Linked DNA regions of Homo sapiens: region 1 is linked to region 2. The links come from fine-mapping of genetic effects on gene expression. A gene starts in region 2. The other region holds a variant in brackets. All regions are shown on one strand. Distances are from middle to middle.

The links.
Region 1: its variant is fine-mapped to the expression of GJB5 in testis (GTEx, PIP 0.99). The same link has a PIP of 0.9 or more in fibroblasts.

The regions. Positions count from the first base shown.
Region 1 is chr1:34,793,519-34,804,453 of GRCh38, reverse strand. It overlaps GJA4 (gap junction protein alpha 4), which reads right to left. Exons shown (of 2, transcript NM_002060.3): 2 at 8,707-10,257. The coding sequence starts at 10,240. The coding sequence ends at 9,239. Among named protein-coding and RNA genes, the nearest start is that of GJA4, 6.0 kb to the right of the region's middle. RefSeq lists an enhancer at 4,120-4,169 and a silencer at 10,038-10,192. The variant C/T (reference allele first, on the strand shown) is at 5,993.
Region 2 is chr1:34,749,738-34,760,672 of GRCh38, reverse strand. GJB5 (gap junction protein beta 5) reads right to left here and starts at 5,626. Exons shown (of 2, transcript NM_005268.4): 1 at 5,478-5,626; 2 at 2,161-3,366. The coding sequence starts at 3,342. The coding sequence ends at 2,521. GJB4 (gap junction protein beta 4) reads right to left here and starts at 933. Exons shown (of 2, transcript NM_153212.3): 1 at 885-933.

The sequences.
Region 1 (10,935 bases), 44 kb before region 2:
ATTTTAGTTGGAAATATTTCCAATTTACTATAAAACTAGCATAACCTTAGTTATAAAACATCTTCACATGGCATACACAGATGTCAAGGAACAATTTTACTTAGAGCTTTTGGTAAAAATTTAATTAAAATGAGAATATGTGGTGTGATGAGATAAGGATGCCTGAATACTTAATTCAAATAAGCATTTTTTTTTGTGAAGAAGTCTAAATTACTAAGAGAGATTTATGACAAAGAGAATTTGAATAGATAACTAGTTGCTGAAGACAGTGAAAAAGTTTTTGAAGAATGACATATAAGAAAGACACTGAATCCAGTTGGCTTTACAGGCAAGTAACGTATCCAAACTTTCAAGGAATTATGCTATTAAAATGATTGCAGGCCTGAGTATAGGATTCCACATTGAAAATTGTTTTCCTCAGGATTTTGAAGGCATTGTTCCACTGTCTTGTAGCTTCCAGTATTGTTACTGCAAAGTCTGAGGTCACTCCGATTCTTGAGCCTATGTGTGAAACTATGTTCTTCTCTGGAAACTTGTAGGCTCATCTCTTTGTCTCTGGCGTTCTGAAAGTTTTCAGTAGAGTGGACCTATACTCATCCATTGGGCTGGGCACTCAGTGGCTCTCTCAATCTAGAGATTATTGAATTTCCTTTGATTATTTACATTCCTATTTTTTCTACTCCTCTTTTCCGAAGCTTCCGTTAGACCTTCTGGACTTGTCCTCAAATCATTTTTTATATTTTCTACTGTTTGTATCTTTGTATTTTATTCTAGTTTCTGGGGAATTGCTTAACTATCTTCCAGCCTTTCTATTGAAGTTTTCAATTCTGCTGTCATACTTTTACTTTCCAATACCTTGGTTTTGTCATTGTTGTTCTCTATGTAGCTGTTTCTTAGAGTATTGTCTTATTTCATGGCTGCAATACCCTCTTTATCATATCAGAAAGATGTGATAAAATCTTTCTGAATAAAGTAATATTAGTTTTAAAAATATTTTATTCTCCATGCATAATCTCTCTTTTCTCTGGAAAGCTTTATTCTGATTATTTTAGACTCTTTCATATAAGATGGTTTTCTCAAATGCCTGGGATCCTCACCCATGTGCTCATATTTAAAAGAGGGTCACTAAAACGCTGTCTGACCAAAAGAGAACCCTACTGTAAACTGTGGACTTTGGGTGATAATGATGTATCAATGTAGGTTCATCAAGTGTAACAAATGTACCTCTCTGGTGGGGGATGTTGACAGTGAGGAGGCTGTGCATGTGGGAAGTGGGCAGAGGATATAAGGAAAATCTCTTTATCTTCTGCTCAGTTTTGCTGTGAACCTAAAAATATTCTAGAAGAGTATTTTTGAATATTTAGAAGATAAACTCTGTTCAACAAATACAAACAAAACATTTGTTTTGGACACTCTAACCATTGCAGTAGGCAAATAAAAACCCAACTTAATGGAGAAAAAAAAAGCTGTTTGGACGATCTGTATGCATGATTAGGACTTCCTTACTGTGATTTTCATTGTGTGGCCATCTAGCTGTCTATTTCCTTGGACAGCCCCTGGTGCCCATATCTTTAGGTTTTTTCCTTTGGATCTGTCAGATCCACTGGCAACACTCTTCCAAACACTTGCATAGAAAATACATACCTGGCTTCCAGGATTCTCAAGAAAAGTATAAGTAACAAAAGGGAAATGGATTCTACCAGATACTAAAACTGTATTACATGCAGGGTGTGGTGGCTCATGCCTGTAATCCCAGCACTTTGGGAGGCCGAGATGGGTGATTGCTTGAGCTCAGTTGTTCGAGACCAGCCTGGGCAGCATAGTGAGACCCCCGTCTCCACACAAAAATACAAAAATTAGCCATGCATAGTGGTGTGTGCCTGTGGTTCCAGCTACTGGGGAGGTTGAGGTGGGAGGATGGCTTGAGTACAGGAGGTGGAGACTGCAGTGAGCCAAGATCGCACCACTGCACTCCAGCCTGGGCAACAGAGCTAGATCCTATCTCGAAACCAAACCAAACCAAACCAAACCAAACCAAACCAAACCAAACCAAACCAAACCAAACCAAACCAAACCAAACCAAACCAAACCAAACCAAACCAAACCAAACCAAACCAAACCAAACCAAACCAAACCAAACCAAACCAAACCAAACCAAACCAAACCAAACCAAACCAAACCAAACCAAACCAAACCAAACCAAACCAAACCAAACCAAACCAAACCCCGAAAAGATTGTGTTAGAAAGCTACACTAATGAAAAGAGTGGTAGTATCACATAAATTGACAGATTAATGGAACAGAATTATAGGTAGTCTATAAAATGTAGTCTGTTACATATAGTATAGTGAAGCTGTTATCACAAATTAGTATAGGAAGGATTATCCAATAAGTGCTGCCAAAACCATTGATTATTTGGGGGGAAAAGTTAGCACTTCACCTTATATGCTAAAATTAGGTTGTTTGTTCATGCTTTGTCTTTTGTTCAATAATTATTTTTCTCCTATTATGTTCAAGCCAGGTTAAAGTATAAAATTAAAAATAATATTGAAAAGGGGATAACAGTGTAAGCCTAAAGTTACTGGAAAGGAAAAAAGTCCATAAATTTGACTACATAGAAATTAAAAATATCTGCAGACAAAGGAACAAAATAATACAGAAAAATTTTTATAACATATGCCAGATGAAGGGTTGATATCCTCTACCTATAAAGAGTTTATACAAGTTGATCAGAAAATAGTAAAACCTGATAGAAAAATGGGCAAAAAACATTCATAGAACAAACATAAGTGCTGAAGAAGTATACGTTAAAAAATCTACCCTCACTAGCCAGGCATGGTGGCTTATGCCTGTAATCCCAGCACTTTGGGAGGCCGAGGCGGGTGGATTGCTTGAGTCCAGGAGTTTGAGACCAGCCTAGGCTACATGGTGAAACCCCATCTCTACAAGAAAATGCAAAAATTAGCCCGGCATGGTGGCACGCACCTGTAATCCCAGCTACTAGGGATGCTGAGGCACAAGAATTGCTTAAGCCTGGGAGATGGAGGTTGTAGTGAGTTGAGATTGTACCACGGCACTCCAGTCTGGGAAACAGAGTAAGACCTGCCACACACACACACACACATAGAAGTCTACACTCACTAGTAATCAGGCCTCCCTCATGAAACGTGATACCATTTTTTCCCTGTTTAATAATTAATAATAGGCAAAGCAATTTAAAAATTACAATAATGCTTGTATGCATACCTTGAAATGAGCACTTTCATACAATGCTATTGAACGAATAAGTAATTTTTTTTTCTGGAAAGCAGCTTGGCAGTCTGTATCAAAAACAACCCTGAACAACAAATATATCAAGCCCCTTCCTCCTTCTTCAGAGCCTTGAAAGTGCTATTCCGTCTACCTGGAATGCTCTTCCCCATCTCTTCCTAGCTCATTCCTTCTCACGTTTTAGGCTTTCTGAAGCCCACCTCCTGCAGGCAGGCTTCTATGACCTCAGGCTAGATCAGATTCTCTCTCTCTTTTTTTTTTTCAAAGCCTGATCCATCAGCCAGTGTTTTGGAAGCCAATTTTGGGGAGAAGGCAGAAGGACCCACTGTTCAGTATGTAAACTTCCACTTAATTCCTCTGTTTTATTTATGGTGCTCCTACCCTCAATTATGCCTGGCATTTCTCGATTTTTTTTTTTTTTTTTTTTTGAGACAGGGTCTCGCTCTGTTACCCAGGCTGGAGTGCGAGTAGCTGGGAATACAGGTGCACACCACCACACCTGGCTAGTTTTTCTATTTTTAGTGGAGATGGGGTTTCGCCATGTTGGCCAGGCTGGTCTCGAACTCCTGACCTCAAGACATCCGCCCGCCTCCGCCTCCCGCCTGGGATTACAGGCGTGAGCCACTGCACCTGGCTGCATTTCTCTGTTTTATCCTCTCCAGAGAATAAACCTCCACCTCTTCACAGAGTTGGGAAGATGTGGTCACCTAGCTGCTCAGTGCAGGGATGGAATCCCCAGGCCGAGGTGCTTTCAATGAACTCTCCTGTTTTCAGCTCCACCCCAATTCCCACTCAGAGGCAGTTTGTGCTTTCATTTCTTGTAATTTGTGCTTTTCTGTGTTTCTGAGTCACCCACAATGAATCACTTTCACAATCAGATAAAAGCCCCTAAATTTTCTTTATTTAAGATTTCCTACTTTGTGACCCAGTAATTTTACTTCTTGGAATATCTTTTTCTTTTAAGGAAATAGAAATTTGGAAAACATTTAGGTACAGACATCTGCATCACAGTACCATTTATAGTAGAGGATGATTAGTTGCAAACATCCTAAAAATCCAATATCAGGGTCATGGTTTAAGTAGGCACTGATAAAGCCTTTAAGTGGTATTTCCAAAAATATGTTCTTAACGACATGGGAAAAAACTAATGATTTATCATAAAATGAAAAAAGCATAATATAAAATTGTAGGTATATCTTTACTAAGATTTTATTTTAAAATATGCATGGAAGAAGGCTGGAGGGAATTACTTCTGAATATTAACAGTTGTTGCCTCTGGATGGTAGGATCTCATTCACTGTCTACAATGATCATGCATTATCTTTATAATTCAAAAGAATTTATATATATGTAAAGGAGGAGAAAATAAAAAAAATTATAATCTTAGGTTGCATTAAGAGAGGTAGAAGTTTTGGGGCAAGAGAGGCAATAATCTGGATTCGGACCAACTGGAGTGTCGTATCCAGCATACAGGGAGGGTGGCATATGTTAAGAGGAAATTAGGCCAGGCATGGTGGCTCACGCCTGTAATCCCAGCACTTTGGGAGGCCGAGGCAGGTGGATCACCTGAGGTCAGGAGTTTGAGACCAGCCTAGTCAACATGGTGAAACCCCATCTCTACTAAAAATACAAAAATTAGCCAGGCGTGGTGGTTCACACCTGTAATCCTAGCTACTGGGGAGGCTGAGGCACAAGAATTGCTTGAACCCAGGAGGCAGAGATTACAGTGAGCCAAGATCCTGCCACTGCACTCCAGCCTGGGCAACAGAGGGAGACTTCGTCTCAAAAAAAAAAAAAAAAAAAAAAAAAGAGGAAAGTAAACAAATTGCAGGTTGGCCAGAGACTTCTGGAAATCAGGATTATCTGGAGGAATAGGAGGAGAGCAGGCTCAGGCTGAACCTGGTGGCTGTCTGTATGTGGCTGCAGTACTGTTTGGGAAGGACAGAACTGGGTGTCCTGTGGCTCTGGGATCAGAGCCAAGTCTGGAGAGAGATTCTTAAAGGTGGAGAGAGATGTTCTGACAATCCTGTGATGGATACCTCTTCCTGCAAACGTCAATAGTCATGCTGAGGTTGGTGTGAAAACGAAGAATCCCCAGTCAAGGAACTGGAGGTGATAGAACCATGAGGCTGGCAAGCCAGTGGCCAGTGAGCCAGCATGTTAGACTGGGAAGAAGTTTTGACATCACCCAGCTTGACAGCCTTGTTTATGTGCAGCCCGTGATGTTCTCATGCTCCCATCCGTCATAGATAAGATGACCTTGGGTTATGCAAAATTCCCAGTGCACTCCACATAACCCCATCCCTGTCTTTCCTACTTAGGAAGGCAATGTGAATTTAAGCGACTGGAATTAATCTTATTGTAGAAACAACCTTGACTTTTTTCTGATTCATGCGAAATAGCACATCACTCATGAGTTTCAGATCAATGATCAGTGACAGGTTACCACACGCAACGCTCCTCATACCTAATTGTCACATACGTGTTTCTCATCCAACCCTTTCATTTCACAATGGGGAAATTGAGGCCTAGAGAAGGGAAAGAGCCATAGTCAAGTGCGTATGAGAGGTGTGAGGTAGGAGCCAAGTCTCCTAACTCCAAACGATGGCTCTTTCTCTAACTGAGAGCCACTAGCTGTCAACTTAGATTTTGGTTGGTGGCAGCAAGGGATAGGCTGGTGAGAGGAAGAAGGAAACAAAGGAAAAGAAAGGTGTGAACCTGC[C/T]GTGTTTCATCCTAGTGACATCACCAAGGAGATGCCTGCGTCCAACAAACCTAGCATTCTCCAGAGCCCCGTGCCTGACCAGTGCTTGGAGGTGAGGTGGGGCCACGAGGGTGGTGGTATGGGTTGAATGGTGCCTCCTGCCAGATATATTGAAGTTTTAACCCCTAATGCCTCAGAATGTAACCTTATGTGGAAATAAGGTCTTTTCAGAGGTAATCAAGTTAGATCAAAGTCATTAGGGTGGGTCCTAATCCAATATGAGTGATGTCCTTATAAAGAGGGGAAATTTAGACACAGAGACACAGGTAAAGGGAGAACACCAGGTGAAGATGAAGGCAGAGATGGGAGTGATGCGTCTAAAAGCCAAGGAGTGCCAAAGATTGCCAGCAAAACACCAGAGCTGGGAGAGAGGCCTGGAACAGTCTCCCTCACAGCCCTCGGAAGGAACCAGCCCTTCGGATATCTCGATCTCAGACTTCTGGCCTTCAGAACTGAGAATCAGTTTCTGTTGCTTAAGCCGTGCAGTCTGTGGTACTTTGGTACAGTAGCCTTGGCAAGGGAATACAGGTGGGATGGGGCTTACAGCCACTCTTCTCTCCATAAAGTCTTCACCATACCCCCAACCCAAATGGTGTGATCCCAGCCCCATGACACTGTCCTCACTCTTAAACCCCCAGCCCATATGTGCTTGTGTTTGTGTGGCCGCCAGTCTAGGACCCAACTTGTCTTGCCAAAGGTCCAAGTTCCTGAGCCCCAGCCTGACCCCGGCTCTGACACCAAGCTCAGAGTGGGTGAGCTTTGAGGGAGGGGAAGGATGCCATTTCTGCTCACTGAAACCTTTCTTCTCCTACCTTTCCAAAGTAGGAAAGGTTGGGGATAACAGAAACACCAAACCAGGGCTCTGAAGCCCCTCAGGTAATGCTGGCTCTAACGCTGGCTTCTAACCTGCAGCCTCTGGCCTCTCACCCTGGCTGGAGGAGAATCTCTTAGACAGGGACCTCAACTTCCAGTGGTCATGGACTTCCAGTATGTGAACAGCCTCCTTTTTGAGGCTTTCAGGATTGAGCCCAGCCTCACTCAATCAAGCAGTGGTTCAGATCCCTGAGAGGTAGAGGTCATTGCCGGAGACTAGCTGGAGAAGTCAGAGAGCGCTTCCTGGAGGAAGAGCCTATGTTAGTCTGGCTGAAAGGTGTGAGCTTAATTTTACTGCATGACTACTGAGCCAGGCACAGTCACATACTTTCACTTATTTGGTTTCCAGTCAGTTGTGAGGCAGGTGATGTTATTTGCATTTTAGAGGTTAGAAAACTGAGACTCAGAGAAGCGAAATGATTGACTCCAGACCACAGCATTTAAATTCAGGGCCCTCTGGTGATAAGCTCATCTCACTCTTCCGCACCAAGCCCTTTTCCAGGGTCCAGTAGTATTTAAAGGATTTGTGGAGTTTCGAAGTGTGGGGGGCAGGGACGCTGCATGCTGACACAGGGGCAGGGTGGGAACATACTGGGTGAATCTGGGAGCCATGAGGAAGCTGGCCTGATCGATTTCAGCGATTCAGAGGGAACAATGGGAACCACAGCTGGAAAAGGAAGAGGGTCGTAATTTATTAGGCTGAGCATTCAGACTCGCTGGGTAAGCAGCGAGTGAGCGAATGAGCTCTGGATGAGGGGTACAGAGCTGGTGTTTTCAACACCCATCCTGATGGGAGAGGGGCCAACTTGCCAACCTGCTGTGAAGGCATTGTGGCTCTCAAGGAGAAGCATGTGGCCACATCAGAGAGACCCCCTTTCCTTCTTCAACCCTAGCCCCAGATGTCCCTGGGAAGGGAGGACAACCAGCTTGCCTCTGAGGGTCACTACCTAGTGCTCTCCCCTACCTGGGTCGCCTCCACATAGGTCAATTCTGCCAGCAGTGGGCCCATCCTCAGCCACGCCTCCTGTATCTAGGTGGCTCATCAGGACCTAAATGCCCCCTCAGCCTGTCAATCCCTCCTCTGACTTTGCACAAACAGTTTTCTCCGCTTGAATGCTCAGTGTTCTCTTTCCCTCCCCAGTGAACTCCTAGTCAAGACCCAGTTCAATTGTTCATTTTGTTTCTGCAGCCTTTGTGGCTCATTGGCAAGATTCAGTCTCTTCCACTTCTGTACATTGCCATTGTCCTCACTGAGGTCTGGGTGCATGGAGAGCAGATATGAAGCAAATCCTTCAGTTGCTTCTCCTGGTGGGCAGACTAGAAAGGGCCAAGGTAGGAAGGACTAGTGACCTAAACCTCCCTTCCCAAATACCAAGGATGAGGATGAGGTGGGATGAGTGCAGGGCCCATCTGAACTGGACTGCGAAGGGCTTGGCTGGCAGGCACGCTTGGAGAGCAAACCATCCAGTAAGGAAGCACTTTGCAGGGGGCAGTGTGGCCAGGGCGACGATGGGCATGGGGGAGGGAGGGCAAGGACGTTTATGCTTTGACCACTGATTAATGCGCTGGAGCAGTGGGGATGAAAAGAAGATAGTGTCTGAGGCATTTCAAAAGGCAGAGCATTTAGAAATCAGGGCTGTTGGAGGCAGAAGGTATGAGTTTGAGGGTTCAAGGTGTTGGCTGGAATCGGGGGTTATAGAGACCAAAGAGATTATACAGGACCAAGAAGTAAAGGAAGCCTGGGCAAAATAACTCTATCCCCCAACCCCCAGCACATCATGATAGCATCAATACACACCTACTTGTGATCAAGTCCTGTTTATTTCAGAAGCTTGAACAGTAGAACTAGGAAGGAGTGATGAAAACAAGGCACCAGTCCCCTTGACAGGGCCAAATCCGGCACAAGCTCTGTCTGTGCGATCAAGGCTGACCCAGCAGCCTCAATCCGCCTTTTCCTGTGAGGAGAGGGTTTGAGGACAACCTGCGCACAGGTGACTGTTCCATAGGGTGAGGTTGGGGTAAGTTGGCTCTGGGTTCCTCTGGATCAGCTGCAAAAGGCCAGAGGGCCCCCAGTACCCTTGGCCAAGAGCATTCCATGCTGACTCTGTCTGTGCTCAGGCAAAGCCACATTCTGGAGAGGAAGCCGTAGTGCCTGGTGGGCACCAGGAAGGCCTCAGGTGTTCAAGAACAACTTGCAATGAGGCTCCATGGCCAGCAAGCACCTGCTTCCCCAGCCCAGTCATCTCTGCAGAGCCTTCCAGGAGGGGGCAGGGGGCATCCCAGGCAGCCAGACTTCTCAGGACCCCTCTGTTGGGTGACATAAGCCACAGGCCTCTATACATACTGCTTCTTAGAAGCAGAGCTGCTGGGACGACTTGGGGGTTTTTGGCCATTCTGAGGGGGTGGGTCCAGGAAGAGAGGGGGCCTGGAAGACGCCAGCCTCTCCTCTGTGGTCAGGTTGGCCCAGTTCTGCTCACTGGATGAGAGCCCATTGTAGGTGGGGCATGGTGGGGATGAGGGCCCCTGGCCCACGGGGAGGTAGAAGAAGACCTGGTCCGTGTAAGGGTCTGAGGAGGTGCCCTGGGTCGGGGGTGCGTCTTGGCCTTGCCGTGCCCTCATCCCCCGGCTGAGGCAGCGACACAGCAGGTGCACCAACTCCAGCAGGTTAAGCACCAGGGAGATGAGTCCAACCACCAACATGAAGATGATGAAGATGGTCTTCTCCGTGGGGCGAGAGACAAAGCAGTCCACGAGGTAGGGGCAGGGTGCTCGCTGGCACACAAACACGGGCTCCATGGTCCAGCCGTACAGGCGCCACTGGCCATAGAGGAAGCCTGCCTCTAGCACACTCTTGCAGAGCACACTGGCGACATAGGTGCCCATCAGTGCTCCGCGGATGCGCAGGCGACCATCTTCTGCCACCGAGATCTTGGCCATCTGACGCTCTACGGCCGCCAGCGCCCGCTCCACCTGTGGGTCCTTGGCCGGCAGTGCCCGCAGCTCCCCCTCCTTCTGCCGCAGCCGCTCTTCTCGCCGAGACAGGTAAATGACATGGCCCAGGTAGACCAGGGTGGGTGTGCTGACGAAGAGGAACTGCAGCACCCAGTAGCGGATGTGGGAGATGGGGAAGGCCTGGTCATAGCAGACGTTGGTGCAGCCTGGCTGGGCCGTGTTACACTCGAAATCTGATTGCTCGTCACCCCACACTGACTCGCCGGCCAGGCCCAGGATGAGGATGCGGAAGATGAAGAGCACCGTCAGCCAGATCTTACCCACCACGGTCGAGTGCTCCTGGACCTGGTCCAGCAACTTCTCCAGGAAGCCCCAGTCACCCATGGCTCCCGGGCCTCCGTCTGCAAGGAGACAGAGCACGTCAGTGTGTCAGCATGGCATCCTTCTCGTTCGCCCAGCAACAAGCCTGCAGGGAGGTCTGCCACGCCCGTTCTACCTACAAAGAAACCCAGGCTCAGGAAGGGGAAGGACTGGCCTGGAGGCTCCCACTCAGCAGTGCAGGCAGGACCCAACCCAGATTTTTGGATGATGGCTGCCCACCTCTTTGTATGGTCTCATTCTGCTTTGGCTAAGGTCCCTGCCTAATCAGACATCTATGTCCCTCTTGTCCCCGAGCCACTGCCCCAGGATGGACACAGGCCAAGGAAATCTGGGTGGAGTTGAGGCTCCTTTGCCTATGGGAACAGAATTTGAGGAACTTATCCAAAGTTGTGCAGCTGGGCTAAGCCCTTCCTCCCTTTTGCCCAAGGCTGGCTACCCCCAGACAGTGGGAGCTAGTGATGATGGTAGAGGTGTTATCTTCTGCTTCTTAGGGGGCTCAAAGCCTCAGGTCCCTGCTCCCCGCCTCATATCTTACCCAGCTGGCTTCACTCTAATCTTTGAGCCTGCAGGGGCTGGGTAGTGGAAGGGGTTTTAGGAGCTGAAGGCAGCATCATCCTTTAGCTCCACCGGTCAGCAATAATGACCACCTGCCACTTGAGGAGGGACATTTGGTCCTGTCTTCTTCCTCCACCTCCACT
Region 2 (10,935 bases):
CCTTGGTAAATCCCAGAACAATCTGCATCCTTACTCCTTGCCTCTGGCTCCAGGAAGGTTCTCAGCCCTGGCATTCCCTCCCAAACTAAACAGAGGTGCTTTGGAATCACGGGGACTTGATATCATCCCTGCCAACCCGTGTACTGGTGCTGGGGCCTGAGGGCTGACTGTCTTGACCACAGTGGGTTCCTCTGGAATTCCAACCATTCCAGCTTTAGGAAGGACTGAGGATGGATTCTGGCATGGTCTGGACCCCCCATTTACTTTCTCTGGGGGCACCCCCTCCTCTGTCCATTTAGTGGCTGTTTGCTAGCCGCATTTCCATTATTTCCTCTCAGGCCCCTCTCCTGTGGACTCTGACCTCCACACCCCCTTGTCTGGAGTCCCCATCAGGCCCCATGTCCAACCCTCCCCTCCTCCTACCCTCCTCCTTCCCCATCCCCAATCCCTGACTCTGCTCTCAGCCTCTTCAGACATCGTGTGCCTGGGACACTTTCAGAGCAAGAGGCATCGCCTGTACCCAAATGGTCTATTTACCTGTCTTATTTTTTTGCCAGGCTGTCAGCTGCTAGAGGGCAGGCTCTTCACCTCTGTCTCCCTAGCACCTAGCACTGGCCTGGCCCAGTGAACACACAATAGATGTTTGTTAAACTGAACTGAAACCCATTTCTTCCTGATACCCCCTCTTCCCCAATCTTCTGTCGTCCCTTAGGTCAGCCAGGACATTCCTTCTCCTCCTTGGCACTTCCCTGGGGATCCTCTAGGGACACTGACCCTCTGGCTCCCTCCCTGAAGCCCAGCCCACAGCCTGAGGTCCCTTGGATATCCTCAGCTCAGCTGGTTGCTTGCTTCCTGGCCAGCCTCCTGCCCTATTCGGTCCTCACCCTTCTTGGGTCCAGTAGCTGCTTCCTTGTCCTTGGGCTTGTCTGTTTGCCTCAGGACCTCCCGGAGGCAGCTTTTGTTCCTCTCTCCCTTGCTGGGTGGGGCTTTCTGGGCCAATGAGCCAAGCGAGAGTGATTGGGTGGGCAGGCAGGAGGGCGGACTTCCCCGGGCACATACTCAGAGCAAACACCTGCGGCTCTTCTCTCCTGGCCCACGCCTCCTCTCTAGCCTGGCTGGGTATGGCTGAGCCTGGCTCCCAGGCAGGCAGGTATGTGGGTGAGACTGCTGTGTGGGGTTCAGGAGCCTGATATCATTATGCCTAGGCCTAGGACAGCACCAGTGGGATTGACCCTGTCCCCTTCCCATTGCCTCCTTACCCTGCCTCCTTGCCCTCTCTCCTGCCCTTTTCCTGGGAAGCCTGATACTGAGGTCTCAGCAGCTGACATCTACGGAAAGGGGCAACCTTAATTTAGTGCAGGAACGCATCCCATTCTGGTGGTGGGATATTTCTGGGACTGGAGTCTGGAAGCTCTTGGATTGTGTAGGAAATGGGAGGGGTCAACTATGACTTTTCTAGACCAGGGCACCCATAGCCTTGGTGGAGGCAAGGAATGCAGGTCAGCAGCATGAAATGCCCCAGTTAGCACAGGGCCAGGCACAGCATCGCTGTCCATCCTCTGTGGGTCCTGGGGAAGGCCTCCAGGGAGGCTGGAGTGTGACCTCACATATGCTGGTGGGGGGCCTGGGACCTGTGTTCTGGCTGGGATGATGAAGGTTAATGTGCAGCTAGGGAGGGGCCTTCTGCCTCGTTTCTCACAGGCATTATCAAGCACTTCCTAATACCAATGATTAACATTTATGTGTCCTTTTACAGCTGGCTAGCCCTGTCCACAGCCATGAGCTCATCAGTCCTCAGCACAACCCCACAGGCTAGGTATTATTAACCCATTTTGGAGAGAAGCTTAAGTTACTTTCCCAGAGTCCCGGTGGAACTTGGATTCGACACAGGCATTCTAAGTTCATGAACTTCCCACTGCAACATGGACTAAGCTCCATTCTCTCTGCAGACAACCCACAGGACTAAACTTGCCATGGGGGATAAAGGCTAGATGGGAGCATGAGCAAGTAGCACGTCCCCTGGAGTACTGGGGGCCCCCTTTCTGGAAGAGAGGATGCCCCTCACAGGCTGGATCAAGTGCAGCTCTTCACGGGGGCAGAGAGATTGACACCATGAACGTGTGAGGGTCACGAAGGCCGCACAACCAGAGGGCACCTGGAACCAGCAAATGAGTTGACTTTTATTAAGTTCTGACAGTGGGCCACACACGATGAAGGTGCCCGCATGTGTGTTCTTCTATGAACGCCCTCCTCCCTCCAACCCTGGGCATTGGCCCTCACTATTTCCATTCTAGAAAAGGAAACCGAGCTGCAGAGCAGAGGGGGAACTGGCCCAGTGCCGTCGAGCTGGGGCAGGTGGCTGGAGTTGAGGACTAGGAACTGGCTCCCAGAGCGTCTGAATCCTCTCTCTTGCCTGCCCCTACCTCATGGCTTAGCTCCCCCACTCTCAGGTTGCACCTATGAGAGATGCTAGAGCCTCCCCATCCAGGCCCAACCTGCCAGACCAGTCCAGGCAGCCCCTCACAAGATGGTTTTCTTCACATGGTCTCGGGGGCGGTCTGGTAAGAGAGGAGGATGACTGTCTGAGCCCAGAAAGATGAGGTCACCCGAAAGGAGGTCGTCTTGTTTGCAGGAAGAGGTGGTACCGTGGGGGTGATGACCTGTGCACATGGCTTGAGCTTTCCTTGCTGCCAGGCACTCGTGGCATCTCTTGCTCACCAGGTAGATGAGCTCCACGAGGTTGAGCAGGATGCAGATGGCAGCTGTGGCCACCATGAAGAGGGTGAAAATGTTCTTCTCTGAGGGCTTGGAGATGAAGCAGTCCACTATATTGGGACATGGATCTGCGTGGCACTTGACCACAGGAGGGAGGATATATTTGGGGTAGAATGAGTGGAACACATAGAGAAAGGCGATGTCCACGCTCGCCTTGAACACTAGGCTGCAGACATATGTCCACCAGAGCCCACCCCGCTTCTTGCCGGGGTTCAGGTAGAGGCGCCCACTGTTCTCCCCATGGGCTTCTCGGTGCCTCTTCTCCTGAACCTCCCGGTAGGCCACGTGCATGACCACGAGCAGTGAGGGGCATGTCACCAGGATAAGCTGCAGGGCCCAGAGGCGCACATGGGACACAGGGAAGAACTCATCAAAGCAGACGTTGGAGCAGCCGGGCTGGCGAGTATTGCAGTCGAAGTCCTTGTGGTCATCACTCCACACACGCTCGGCCGTCACCAGGTACACCAGCACGCGGAAGATGAAGACCAGAGACAGCCAGATGCGCCCAAAGGCTGTGGAGTACTTGTTGACCCCACTCAGGAGTCCCTCAAAGATACTCCAGTTCATGGTGGACCCACGCGTCAGCTGCTACTGCAGGGAAACAAGAACAATCATTTCCTACATTTATCACAGACTTGCTCTGAGCACTTTGTAGAAATATGTCATCACATTTCATCCTTACCATCACTAGAGGAGCTGGGTTCTACTACTGTCCCCATTTTGTAGAGGGAGGGAGCTGAGGTTTAGTGGCATTATATACAAGGTTACACAACTATTAGGTGCAGGGCTGGGATTTGAGCATAGGTAATTAAGTCCAGAACCCAGCTCTTACCAATACCAGTGGATAAGGGCAGGTCCAGGGAGCCACTCATTCCTCCCCGGGCCTGAGGCTCTGGTCTTGAGGTTCTGCAGAGTGAAGACTGGTGGAGCTGGGACATTCTGCCTGCTCCCTCTGTTTCAACCCTGGCCCTCCTCCTCAGGGGGGCTGAGCCTTGAGATGGTTCTCTCCTTTCTGAGCACTGCTGCCTCTTCTCAGACAGCCCCTTCCCCAGGGGAACCTGCTCTTTGTCCTTTTCTTGGCTCAGGGATGGGACTGGAAAGGAGGCTGGAACCTTGTCCCCAAGCCCCCATCTGGTCTAACACTCTGTAATTAGCCAGGCAGAGTCCTGCTCAAGTGCCACTCAATGCAATCCAGCTGAAAGCTAAAGCAGGCAGCAATAAATTCTCTTCATACAGTAGGTTTCCTAGAGTAACCTGGTATTCCAGTGTTTCCCAAACAGTGTTCCCTGGAACCCTGTCCCATAGGTTGGCAATAGGAGAAGTGAGAGAAGAGGATTCTGTGTCAAGAAAAGTTGGCAAACATTGGGTTTAGTAAAGTTAAATAGGGTTCTTTTGCTCAACCGTGCTAATAAACTCACTAATAAATTCACCAAAAGAGGTATGAAATATGTGGCATTGCCCAAACTCATTTGCCCACAGAAGCCCTTTTCCTCCTGACATAACATTTATCATCTTGTGGAACAGCCTTGTCAAGACATCAAGTGGGAAATGCTGCTCCTGTCAGTTCTGCTGGTGAATTTGGCCTGATGAACTCACAGAATCAGATTCACCTCCGCGTAAGGACTGTGACTGCTAGGCAGAGTAAGGGGTCCCCACTTCCTCACCCGCGAGTCCTCTGCCTGATTCCTGGAGATGGGGGTGTGTCCATTAAGACCCATGCACTGTGGTTTCAACCAACTGTGCACCCTGGGACCCCAAGGAACCTGTCTGCCTAGCCACTAAAGGGCTCATGATGGCCTTCCCATGCTGGTCCAGGCTGAAGCTCACCAGGCTCTCTGGAGCCTCTGCATGATCAACTGCAAAGCAGAGTAGTGATAACAGCCAATATCCATGAAGCATTCATGCCGTGCCAGGCACCGCTCTAAGTTCTTTGTATGAATCAGTACATTATTCCTTCACAGCAACCTTAGGAAAGGGCATATTTTTTATTCCCAATTTACAGATGAGGAAAGAGGAACACAGAGGGATTAATTAACTTGCTCAACGTCACACAGCTAATAAGTGGCAGAGCTAGGATTTGAACCCAGGCAGGCTGGCTCTAGAGCCCACCCTCCGGGAACTGCCCAGCCTTAGGCCTCAGACCCTTTCCTCAAGTTTCAATGAGCTGCCTGCCTGTTTGTGTGCAGACGGATTCTGTCCTTCCCCTTGTGTGTGGATCCTGGATGAGGGTGGCTGGGGGAACCTTTGCCCACCACCCTGTCTCCACACCACCTGCGCCACTTGGACGGGGGATGGGTGGAGGTGGGGGCCGGGGTTGGGGGGAGCTCTGTTTTGAATCACCATCTTGCATGCTCAGTCCTGTCTAAGGTAGGACTCCTGCAGCTTCTCAGGGAACACCCAGGAAGGCCCCGCCCTTAGCCCCAGGGGCTCTCACCCAGCCCATCCCTACTTGGGGAGGAGTGGGGCAGGGCTTTGCAGGCCCAGGCAGAGCTACCCTGCCTGCTGAGCTTCCGGCCTGGCCCCTGCTCCTACCTTTGCCCGGCTGGGGAGACCTGAAAGAACCCAGAGCCCCTTATTCCTCCACCATCAGGACCCAGGGTGGCAGATGTGTCCAGGCCACATCCCACCACTCCCCAGCAGAGAAGTGTCCTCCTGCCACGTATGCCAAGGGGCAGGGCACATGCGGACACAGATGCCCTTACCTGAGTGACTACTCCTCAGGGCTCTCCTGGCTCCCAGCAGCCGGCAATAGGACTCAGCAAGCAGCTTGAATTTCATATCCAGAAGCGGGGAAGGTTTTCGGGGAAGCCCGTTGAAGCCTGTTTCCAGGACAGAGCCTGCCGGGTGTGCTGGCCCAGCCTGGGAGGAGGAGGAGCTGGGACCTGCACTGCCATTGGCTGGGCCCCAGCCTCCCCAGACTGCTTCTGATGAGGCTCAGGAAACTGAGGGGTTCACTCCTCCCAGGGCGCTGAGCCTCGAATCCTGGTATCCTCTCAGGGGAGAGCCACAGGTCCACTCTGACTCCTTGTTCATCCTCCCATCTGTGGGCTTGTGTGGGAGAAGCTGAGGCCTGAATCCCAGCTCTGCCACTTTCTCACTGTGTGATTTCTTGCCTTCTCTGTGAAAGTGGGAAAAGAACAACACCTACCTCATAGGGTGGATACGTGGATTAACCCAGCCTTAGGGGTGAAGTGCTTAGAACAGTGCCTGACACAAGGGAAGCCCTGTCTACAATTGCCTATAATGCGTGTATACTGCCCAGCACAGGCCTGCCGCATGGTATGTCCTCAAAAAAATGTTTCTTCCTCCTCCTTTTCCTTATTCCTAGGCCTTTTCTTTCTGAGATACAGGGAAGGCAGAGGAGAAGGGAGGGAGAGAGAGACGTATGCACTAGAGAAAATCTCATTTGGATGCATGTTGTCTTTGGGTTAAAAAGGCCAAACCCAAGCCAGGCAGGAACCACAGGAGAGGTGGAGAAGGTGGGCAGGGGCACCTGGGGAAAGCTTCTCATTAGTGCACAGACACGGTCTTTTGGCCTAATTGACTTCCAAGGTGCCCTGTATCAGCAGGTCACTTGGGGTCAGGATTCAACAGACAAAGCATCCAGGAGCCACAAACACCTCATGTCCACAAGCAAACACAATGTAGCTTCACATGAGCATACTCTTACACACAGGCCACAATTATGGGCACAGTGTTGCACACACATGCAGCAGTGGCTTTATTTTATTCACTGCTCTATCCCTTGTGCCTAGTATGGTGCCTGGTGTCTTGTCCAGTTAGGCTTCAATTTATATTTATTGAATGAATGATGTGTGAAATGCACACACCCTGCAGAGAGTCACACATTTCTATACTCCATGCTCTTTCCAAAAAGCTGTTGCCAAGTACAGGAGAGAGGAGGCATATAAAGAGATCAGTTACAACATTGTGAGAAGTCCTAGAAAAGACACAGAGAGAGAAGGGAGTTTTAAGTTCTGCCAGAGGGAGAGCCGGAGAAGGTAACATTTAAGCTGGGTCTTGAAGGATGTATAGGAGTTTACCAAGAAGAGATGCTGAGGAGGGGCCTTTGAGGCAGTGGGCACATAGCGTGCAGAGGACCTTTGTGAAAAATAATGGAAGAGCATTGGAGAGTGGGCTGGGTAGTGGTGGGGACACCACATGGCAAGGAGCCTGGAAGGTCAGCAAAGACCTTCCAGACCATGAAGGACCTGGAATGTCATGCTAAGGAGTTTGAATTTATCTTGGGTGCAGAGGGAGGCATGAGGGAATTCTTTTCTTTTTTCTATTTTTACATTTTGTATTGTGCTGAGGCAGGAAAAAGGAAGAGACATGGTCAGATTGGTACATTTGATTCTCATTATTCAAGGTAGTTATAGTCTATGAGTCACCATGAGCACCAAGTTAGTGAATATTGAAGCATTCTTCCTAGAGGACATATGAGGTTAGGTTCCTGCAAGCTTCTGTTTACAATGTGGTTATCAACTGATCAATACAGAAGTCTGTTTTATGTGTGTTTCTGAAGACACCTTGTTTAATATATATTGTTGACTCATTAATATTGGACTCATAGCCAACACCACTATAACTCATGACTGAATGAAGCTTGTCTAACACACATATTTTTTCCATAAGGCTCATCGTAGCCTTCGTGTGCTTAGAAACACTAGATGGCACTTCAGCACTGTACTCGGGGCCATTTCAAACAGCAAATCCCCAGCAAAAAGCAAGAAATGAGAAAAACATGGCACCAAGTAGACCTCCAATAGAACATGTTTATAGCATTAGAGCTGAAAGGGGAAGGCAGAATGTCACCTTGTTCAGCCACAGCTGGGAACACGTGCATTGGGAGACTCAAATTTTTGCCACTCTGTGCATGTTATAAATGGCCATGAAAGTGTCTTAAGTGTAGATTTTGGCTTAGGAATAAATTGTGGTGAGCTGGAGAATGCACAATACGGAATCTGTGAATAATGAAGATCAACTGTATGTTTAGAAAGCTTCCTCTGTTTGAGAAAAGAGGCTGGAGGGGCTTGTGAGACCGGTATGAAAGTTACTGCAATGATTTAGGCAAGAAATGAGCAAGAGGGTTGGATTTGGGAAATAGCTGGTAAATACAGCTGGCAGCTTTGGGGGACTGACTTGGGGGACTGACTGGATGTAGGATGTGAGGCAGGAGGCTGACCTAGGATGGTTCATAGGTCACTGGTTTTGGTGATTTGATAGGTGATTGGGCCACTGATAGAAATAACCCTATGAGGTAGGAACTCCAATGGCTCCATGTTCCAGATGGGAAAACTGAGGCCCAGAGAGGCTAAGAAACTTGCCTGGGCTTGCACAATCAGTAATCAGGAGAGCTGGGGGTGGAATTCAGGTAGCTGAGCTCCAGAGCCAGTGCTTTTAACACCGTAATGCTTCAACATCTTCATACCCAAGGATTTGGCAACACTGTCGGCTCCTTTATGCTTGATAAACAGAATCATTTACTCATCGTCAAATATTCATTAAGCACCTACTATGTGCCACGTGTTGCGCCTGATAGTGGAAATAAATCAGTAAGCATGGTTCTCATGGTTCAACCTCTGGGCCTGGTCCTCTTGAAGATTACAGTCAAAGGAGGAAATAAGACATTAAACACACACACACACACACACACACACACACACACACACACACCAATAACTCTAAAAATGCAATTGTGATAGAGTCACAAAGGAGAAGCACAGTGCCAAGAAAATGTATAATGGAGAACCAGACCTAGTTTCAGGAAGCAGGGAAAGCCTTTCTGAAAGTGTAAGATTTAAATTGAGGCCTGGAGCTTTCTCCTCTGCCAGTAACCCTCTGCCTGCTTCCTAAAATGCCAGCACTCTCCAGAGCTCTCCTGGATTCTCTTCTCTCAGTGCACTCTCCACAGGCTGTGGCTCCTACCACCAGCTTGGGGCTGAGGACTCCAACTATTGCTGCCACCTCGTGACCCTGGATAGTTCATGTGGCTCTTACTCAGCACACGTAGCACTGAACTCATTAACTCCAAACACATCTGTGATGAACCTATGCACCACTTTTCCCACTCACTCCCCCTGCTATGCTTGGAATGTGTCCCCCAATGCTCTCATGTATTGAAACTTAACCCCCAATGCAACAGTGTTGGGAGGTGGGACTTTAAGAGGTAATTAGGTTAGTTGGATTAACATCGTTATCATGGGAGTGGGTTTGTTATCATGAAAGTGGGCTTATTATCAAGTGAGAGGTTTCAATGGAGGCTTCATGGCTGTTCTTTTACTGAGGGATGGGACTCAGGGGATGCTGGAAATCCAGGAGGGAGCTGGAGGTGGGAAGGGTGGAAGGTGGGCATGACAGAGAACAGGCAAACCTGGAAAACAGGGAAAGAGTTGTGTGATGGGCAGAATCCACACAGACCTGGGCTCAAACCCCATTTCTGCTCCCTAACTATGTGGCCTTGGTCAACTCATTTTTTCTCTCTGAGCCTTAGTTTCCTTTCTTTCGAATGTGGAAGGGGTCGGGTGGTGCTGTTGTGAGGAGTGCTTGAGAGGATGTATATAAACATGGTGATTTACAGCTGGCATGTCTCACACATTCATTTTCTTCCACTCTGTGGGCTGTTGCTCTCTGACCTGTTGGGTGGACATTTGCTTTTCCTCTGGGACGAATGGTCATGCTCTTCCCCTATGATGTGCCTCCTTTCCTAGGCCTCTAGACCTACTCCACCAGCTCTACCCATGCTTCCAAGCTCAGTCCGAGGAGGCTGAAACTGGGATGTGCCCCTTGGTCTCTCCCTACGATTTCTGAGGCTCTGCATGAGCTGGGTCATGGAGAGGCTCACCATTCCTGAGACTGGGGCCCAATGCTTCTAGGTATCCTCGTCCCTCCAGCCCGGCCCACACTAAAGCTGAATCATTGGTCTCAATAACACAGTGTTTTGCCGTCTCTGGGCGGGTTGTCTCAGTTCCATTTGGGGCCTCTCTTTTAGAGGATTGAGGGCTCATGAGCAGTTCTTGAAGCTTTGGCCACTGGCTGCCACATTTCCCCTTGCTAACAAGAGTTCCAAGGCCAAGGACCTTCCTGTTGGGCTCTTGCCTGGATGCTCAGAATCTCTGCTGAGTCATGGTCCAGTGTGGGCACCACAGGACTTACTGAAAGTAACCAGACAGCTCTGCATTTTAAATCTGGTTCCATCAAGTGGTCAGTACACGTAGCAGGTGCTATCAGTATCTGCCCCAGATCCTCTTGGCATACTCCTTTTCGGTGGTTAAGAGGACCTAGTACAGCACAATGATTTACAGCAGGCAGGACCAGTGTCCAATGGCCAGCACCTGCCACTCTGCCTGGGGCTCTCTGGGCTTCTGGGCCTCTGCCTACATATGAGGTAGGCTGGAAGTGCTAGTGAACTGATGCCCCACTGGGAAAAGCCCTCAACCAGTGACTGATAGAAGTTAGGGTATAAATTCTCCAGCCTCCTCAGCCTTTGATTGAGATGACTGTGAAGTCGTTTTCTACTGTTTCCCAGCAGTCCCCAGCAGGATTAAGCTCCGTTGCCCATGGAGGTAACTCACTCAATTAAACACCCTTCATTAGCTTTCTTCCCTTCTCTGACTCACTGCCCATTCCCATGCTGATGTTTCCTCGGATGGCCTCCCAAATAAACAACTTGCATGCAAATCCTGTCTCAGGCTTGGCTTTTGGGAGAGCCCAAACTAAGACATCTCTTGTTTGAACAGAGAAGCGATCTCATTTCCTGGGGAATTCGCCTATCTTCACTCTAACCAGCCGCATCTTCGCTCATTGAGTGTTGATTGGCTCAGAGGTGGGACTGGCCCCCAGTTGAGCTAATCAGTCATACTTATCTTGCTCAGTTGATTGGTCCAGTGTGACAACTTAACCCACGCTCATCTACCAAGGGGTCTTCCCTGGGACTTTTGAACATTGGATAGGGAGAGTGTCCATCTGATGATAGACATAGTGAGAAGTGAGGCTCCGGAATTGCTGGCAGCCTGCTGTTTGACAAAGCTGCTTTGCTGAGTGAGACAATGATTCTGATGCAGAAAGGGAAGCAGAAACAAAAGATAAGCAAGCGAGTGCTTGGAAGGCACTGGAATCCCTGGCTTGATCTATCTTTGGAGCCCAGCCATAATGTTTTCT